Homo sapiens: one gene and its partner. The protein of the gene in region 2 interacts with the protein of the main gene of each other region in a biochemical or structural test. Each region holds a gene or a part of one and is shown on either strand. Other genes may lie near its edges.

The links. The genes of interacting proteins can lie anywhere in the genome.
Region 1: the proteins of CLTB (region 2) and HIP1R form a complex in vitro, tested with the Homo sapiens proteins (2 studies listed by BioGRID).

Annotation. Positions count from the first base shown.
Region 1 is NC_000012.12:122,852,457-122,855,956, forward strand, and holds part of HIP1R (huntingtin-interacting protein 1-related protein), read left to right. Parts: intron 1-1,586; coding exon 1,587-1,727; intron 1,728-2,448; coding exon 2,449-2,506; intron 2,507-2,596; coding exon 2,597-2,672; intron 2,673-2,808; coding exon 2,809-2,949; intron 2,950-3,094; coding exon 3,095-3,156; intron 3,157-3,374; coding exon 3,375-3,447; intron 3,448-3,500. UniProt on the Homo sapiens protein: Component of clathrin-coated pits and vesicles, that may link the endocytic machinery to the actin cytoskeleton. Binds 3-phosphoinositides (via ENTH domain).
Region 2 is NC_000005.10:176,396,040-176,399,539, reverse strand, and holds part of CLTB (clathrin light chain B), read left to right. Parts: intron 1-1,492; coding exon 1,493-1,610; intron 1,611-1,821; coding exon 1,822-1,933; intron 1,934-3,007; coding exon 3,008-3,061; intron 3,062-3,500. UniProt on the Homo sapiens protein: Clathrin is the major protein of the polyhedral coat of coated pits and vesicles.

The DNA of each region.
Region 1 (3,500 bases), on a different chromosome or scaffold from region 2:
CCTGGCATGGGAGAAGGCCAGTGTGGGCAGGCAGTGGCCCCACGAGGGAAGTGGAGAACACTCACAGGCACGCTTCCCACCTGGTGACGCTGGTGTGTTGATGAAGCACAAATGGGGTGTACCAGCATCTGCTGGAGAAATTCCCAGATCTGCAGAGGTGACAGGTACAGGGGCTTCCCTGCCTCAGGACCTGTAACAGCAAAGAAACACAAACGTCCTAAACATGCCTCAGCAGAGGCTGCGTCTCGCTGTCTGTGCAGAGCAGAGAACGGAGGGTGGTGGGAAGAGAGATGTGTCGAATCTGGGATGGCCGGGAAGATCTAGAAAACATTCTACTGTGTGAAATCAAGCAGATTGCCGAACAGCATGGACATACGTGTTGAAGATCCAAGCAGTACTTTATGTGTGCTGTAATTTTTTGCAAGGAAAACATACTTAGCATGACATGTAATTAGAGATTACTTTTTTAAAAAGGCAAGGGGCGGCACTTTGTGTCTTCCTTCTTGCCCCTCCCCCCCAGGCTCTCTCCTGTCACTGCAGAGATTTGCAAGTGGTCCCATCACAGGCAAGGCAGGAGCAGGACCTGAGGGGCCAGGGCACAGGTCTGTGCAGCGGGGGCTGTCTGGCCGCTCTCCCGTGCTGGCCAGCTGCCTGCTCTTTGTCATTCTCTCTGCCCCAGAGAAGCTGCCAGCCAAGGAGGAGGCAGCCTCATGTTTGTCCTTTGTCCCTCCCACTTGGTAGTTCTGATACAAGGCCCGATTGTCAGGGGCAGGGGAGACGGGCCCTGGGGGTGTCAGGGGCAGGGGAGACGGGCCCTGGGGGTGTCAGGGGCAGGGGAGACGGGCCCTGGGGGTGTCAGGGGCAGGGGAGACGGGCCCTGGGGGTGTCAGGGGCAGGGGAGACGGGCCCTGGGGGTGTCAGGGGCAGGGGAGACGGGCCCTGGGGGTGTCAGGGGCAGGGGAGACGGGCCCTGGGGGTGTCAGGGGCAGGGGAGACGGGCCCTGGGGGTGTCAGGGGCAGGGGAGACGGGCCCTGGGGGTGTCAGGGGCAGGGGAGACGGGCCCTGGGGGTGTCAGGGGCAGGGGAGATGGGCCCTGGGGGCAAGCGAGGTTTCAGGGTCACTTGGGGTGTGCAGAGCCAAGCTGTGACCCTAGTGCCGTGTTACTTGGCAGAAGCCCTGCCTGTTCCCACATCTGTAAAGTTAGGCATTTGGGGTGCTCCATCGTGAGCCTCCTTCCTGCTCTAACATTCAGCGTGGGTTTGAGGCCCGTGGGCATGGAGCTATCCGTCACCCTTGTCAGTCGGGCACCTCGTCCTGGGCTCCCAGGTGGAGGTCTCTGGAAGCCCTTGCTGAGCTGGGCTGGGAGCTCCTTTGCCCTGACCTTGTTGTTGCCGTTGACCTCCTTCATGGGAGCATCTGGTCTTGACCTGGGGCAGCCACCAGCACATGAGGCTCCCGTCTTGGAGGCAGGGGGCACACTGGTGTGTGGGAGCTGGCTTAGGGCCCTGCTTCACAGTTGGACCACCTTGGACAGGTTGCCCAGCTCCCAAGGGCTCACGTTCTTCCTCCTGCCCCTTTTGCACAGTTTTCCGACAGCTCAACACGGCCATCGCCGTATCCCAGATGTCCTCAGGCCAGTGCCGCCTGGCCCCCCTCATCCAGGTCATCCAGGACTGCAGCCACCTCTACCACTACACGGTCAAGCTCCTGTTCAAGCTACACTCTTGTGAGTGGCCCAGGGCAACCCCTGGCCCGGAAGGCTGTGTTTATATGGCTTAGACATTCACTGTCAAAAAGGAAAATCGAAAAATTAGAGGTTTATTCATTTAAAAATGGCAGTAATAAACCCACTGCCCATTAATAGAAATAACATATATTTTATGAAAAAAAAAAAAAAAAAACCCACTACTTTACCAAGCAAAAAACTTAGTGAGTGGCTTGGTTTTCATTTTTACGACTAAATGCCTGGCTCGGCCAAGACGGAGGCCCCAGCTGCTCCCAGGAATCTCCCGCCAGGCACCCTGGGGGTGCAAGCGCAAAAAGGCAAAAGGTGTCTGGGGTGTTAGGAGAGTTTTGATCTAACCAACCCCTTGAAAGGGTCTCGTCCCTCGACCGCACTTTGAGAACCACTGTGTTAGTGTCAGCCTGGGACCAACGTGTTTGGTGAAAGCGGCTTGCTAGTGCCTCCCGAAGCCAGGTGTGGGTTAGGTGAGATGTGGCCGCAGCGCCTTCCTTTCCATTCGCTGTTTCCTTCTCTAGCTCAGTCTGAACTGAGCCCTCCCACAGCGTCTCCCACAGGTCTCCCCATCCCGATGGGAGAGCGGGCCTGGCCCGGTCTCAGGTGATCTCTGATCTGTGAGTTTGTAGCATACGGAGGAACAAGGCAGGGCAGGTGAGCCCCTGAGCAGTGTGCAGAGAAGTCCTGTTACACTTGTGCCACCCTCCAGGTCTCCCTGCGGACACCCTGCAAGGCCACAGGGACCGGTTCCACGAGCAGTTTCACAGGTACTGCCTGGGACAGGGACAGGATTGAGGCCGGTGGGGGAGAGGCTCCGTGGCCCCTTCCTGAACCCGAACTTCCCACCATCTCTGCAGCCTCAGGAACTTCTTCCGCAGAGCCTCCGACATGCTGTACTTCAAGCGGCTCATCCAGATCCCCCGGCTGCCCGAGGTACCACCCCCAAGAGGGCCCCGAGGCCCTTTGAGGACCCCAGGCACCTGGCTGGGCCCCACACAGGCTATGGAGATGGCGGAAGGAGGGCTTGCTTAGGGGACAGCTGAGCAGGTCCCACCTGCCGCCCCTGCAGGGACCCCCTAACTTCCTGCGGGCCTCAGCCCTGGCTGAGCACATCAAGCCGGTGGTGGTGATCCCCGAGGAGGCCCCGGAAGATGAGGAGCCGGAGAATCTCATTGAGATCAGCACAGGGCCCCCCGCGGGGGAGCCAGTGGTGAGCCCCCTGCCCAGCCCGTGTCCCCCAGTCCTCCAGCTGCAGCATGAGGCCAACGGGAGTGTCGGGTGGCCAGCCCTCCCTTTGCCCACTGCCCGGCCTGGAGGGCACAGGTGAGTGGGGTCACCATGCTTTGCTGTGGCAGGTGGTGGCTGACCTCTTCGATCAGACGTTTGGACCCCCCAATGGGTCTGTGAAGGACGACAGGTGAGGGCTGGAGGAGCCGACTGGGCTGGGGGTGGTTGGAAACGGGCTCAGCTGAGCTGTGCTCTGGACAGTTCTGTCTGGAAAGGCCATAGGTGGGGAACATGAACCCGTGAGGTGCCCAAATCCTGAGTGGCCACTGAGGAGGAGACAGGTTCCTGTGCTGGGTCTGTTGACTGTTCTGGTTGACTTAACTTGAACCCCAGGACCTCTGTCCCCAGGGACCTCCAGATTGAGAGCTTGAAGAGAGAGGTGGAAATGCTCCGCTCTGAACTGGAGAAGATCAAGCTGGAGGTGCGGGGTGGGGATGGGTGGGGGCCAGGGCCCCTCACGGCCCAGGCAGGGCC
Region 2 (3,500 bases):
AAACTCCTGGCCTCAAGTGATCCTCCTGCCTTGGCCTCCCGAAGTGCTGGGATTATAGGCATGAGCTACCATGCCCAGCCCCATTTTTCAAATGAGAAAACAAAAGTCAGGCAAGGTTAAGCAATTTCTCCCAGGCCTTACAAACATTTCATAGTATCAGAGGTGGCATCTGAACCGAGACAGCCTGGCTGCAGAGTCCAAGTTCTTTCCCATGGTGTGATCTGAGCTATGATCATGCTGCATATCTCAGGGATGCTTCTCTACTCAACAAACATCTACTGAGCATCTGCTGGGCCAGGCACTGTGCTGGGCTCTGGGGACATAGCAGTGAAAAGGACAGAGATGACATTCTGATGGCAGAGACAGACAAACACATTATAAAGTAAGGTCCTTTTGGGCTGGTCACGGTGGCTCAAGCCTGTAATCCCAGCACTTGGGGAGGCCGAGGCCGGTGGATCACCTGAGGTCGGGAGTTCGAGATCAGCCTGACCAACATGGAGAAACCCCGTCTCTACTAAAACTACAAAAAATTAGCCGGGTGTCGTGACGTGTGCCTGTAATCCCAGCTACTCAGGAGGCTGAGGTAGGAAAATCGCTTGAACCTGGGAGGCAGAGGTTGCAGTGAACCAACATTGCACCATTGCACTCCAGCCTGGGAAACAGAGGGACACTCCATCTCAAAAAAAAAGTGAGGTCTTGAGGTCTTTTTGGACTAAGTGTTAGGAGTTAATACAACCACAATAGAGAGTGATTTTAATGACGGTAACACAAGGGACTCACTGTGCCAAGCAGTATTTTTATTTTTTATTTTTATTTGTTTATTTTTTGAGACGGGGTTTTGCTCTTGTTGCCCAGGCTGGAGTGCAATGGTGTGATCTCGGCTCACTGCAACCTCTGCCTCCCGGGTTCAAGTGATTCTCCTGCCTCAGCCTCCGGAGTAGCTGGGATTACAGGCATGCACCACCACGCCTGGCTAATTTTTTGTATTTTTAGTAGAGTCGGGATTTCTCCATGTTGGTCAGGCTGGTCTTGAACTCCCAACCTCAGGTGATTTGCCGCCTCGGCCTCCCAAAGTGTTGGGATTACAGGTGTGAGCCACTGCGCCCGACATTCTTTATAATTTTTAACTCATTTCATCCTTATGTCCTCCCATCAGAGTGCATACTGTTATTTAGCCCATTTTATGACAAAGAAAGTGGCTGGCACACGCTTTCTTGAGTCTTCTGCTTTGGGGGTATCAAAACCTATAACTGGGCCAGAGGCAATGATCAGGCACAGAGAGGGTGAGTAACTTGCCCGCAGTCACACAGGTGGCGGAGTGTTGCTGGCAGAGGGAACAGCAAGTGCAAAGATAGGTGTAGTCACCAGAGACAGTGGGTATGAGGTTGTTTGAGGCTGAGTTATCCAGACATGAGTGGGTCCCCAGCAGGGGCAGCAGAGACAGCGGGGCAGGTGTGCTGGCTGGATAGACTGCTGCGTGTTTGTGTTCTAGGAGGCCAACGGTCCTGCTGATGGCTACGCAGCCATTGCCCAGGCTGACAGGCTGACCCAGGAGCCTGAGAGCATCCGCAAGTGGCGAGAGGAGCAGAGGAAACGGCTGCAAGAGCTGGGTGAGGGCGGGGCTGAGGCGGGGTTGGCTGGGTGGGCTGTGTGTGGGGTGGAGTGTGGGGAGTCCTCGGAGTGCATGGGATGCTGCATGCCTTAATGTGGGACTGGGCCGGTGCGGCCCTGTGGCTGCCTGGCAGGGGCCAGGGGAGGAGCGCGGCCGGGCCTGTGCATCCCAGCTGGAAAGCAGCCACTCATTCTCTTGTGGGGTCCTAGATGCTGCATCTAAGGTCACGGAACAGGAATGGCGGGAGAAGGCCAAGAAGGACCTGGAGGAGTGGAACCAGCGCCAGAGTGAACAAGTAGAGAAGAACAAGATCAACAACCGGTGAGAGGGCTGTAGGGACATGAGGGGGCCATGGGGACATGAGGGGGGCTGTGGGGACATGAGGGGGCCGTGGGGACATGAGGGGGCCATGGGGACATGAAGGGGTGGGGACATGAGGGAGCTGTGGGGACATGAGGGGGCCGTGGGGACATGAGACGGGCTGTGGGGACATGAGGGAGCTGTGGGGACATGAGAGGGGCTGTGGGGACATGAGAGGGAGCTGTGGGGACATGAGAGGGAGCTGTGGGGACATGAGAGGGGCTGTGGGGACATGAGAGGGGCTATGGGGACATGAGAGGGGCTGTGGGGACATGACTGAACACTGCCCAGTGCTCCCTGCCTTTGAGGCTCTGTCCTTCACGGTACAAGGTCTTCCAGGAAGGGAAAGGCCTGTTCTGGGAAGCTACCCTTCTGTCTAGGGAACTGCTGCATGCCAGGCTCTGGGGTAGGCACGGAGGAGATGGAGATAAGGAGGACCCAGCCTTATGTCCTCAAAGGGCGCAGAGGAGAAAAACACACATGTTCAACTAAGCTCAAATACAGTAGGGCCCTCTGCACGAAGGCCATGGAAGCAAGGAAACAGGTCAGGGAGAGACCTCTGTGTCTTGGGACTTGGGCTTTGGAAGATGACTAGGAGGAAAAAAGGGAAAAAAGGGCAGGAGGTAGGGGGGCATTCTAGACCTGGGTACGAAGAAAAAAATGTGATGTATTAGGCAACAGGGGGCCAGGGAGCGGTGGGAGAGAAGGCAGGAACCTGTGGACTCACACTGTAAGGGCCTTGGCTGATGAGTTGGGCAGTGACATGGGCAGTGGGGAGCCACTGAAGGTGTTTGAACAGGAGTAACATGATCAGGGATGAATTTTAGAGAAGGTGCTGGGGCCAGGGTGAAGGTCCCCATTCTCCTGTTTGGGGCTGTGGGTCGTTGCTGAGCCTTCCAGAACTATGCTTCCTAACATTTCTCCCACTGGAGGTACTAATGCTGTCTCTCTCTCTCTCTCTAACCTTCTGCCTGCCTGTCTGTCTTGCCATCTGCCTTCCCCCACCTAACCCCTTCCCTCAACCTTTCCCTCAAGGATCGCTGACAAAGCATTCTACCAGCAGCCAGATGCTGATATCATCGGCTACGTGTACGTGTCTGTTTTGCTTCTCTGTTGGGGGAGCTAGAGAGGGAATGGCCACCACAGTTTCTTGAGTTTCCTGCTTGTGGGATATAAATGAGTGTGGCTGGGCTCGGAGCAATGGTCAGAACAGGAGGCAAATGCCCTGGTGGGTGCAGGCAGCAACCACCTCCCTCCCTCCAGTGAAGTGGAGGCTGCTTGGCTAAATCAGAGCCTTGCAGGATAAAGGCAGAGAAAGGAATGTGCTTGCCACTTATTCCCATGTGGGAGGGGCAAATGGCAGAGCACCCCAACTCCCTCCCTCTGTGATGTCTCTTGGTGGGTGTGTGGGGTGAAGGGTTTTTTGTTTTTTGAGATGGAGTTTCGCTCTTGCTGCTCAGGATGGAGTGCAGTGCTGCGATCTCGGCTCACTGCGACCTCCACCTCCTGGGTTCAAGCGATTCTCCTG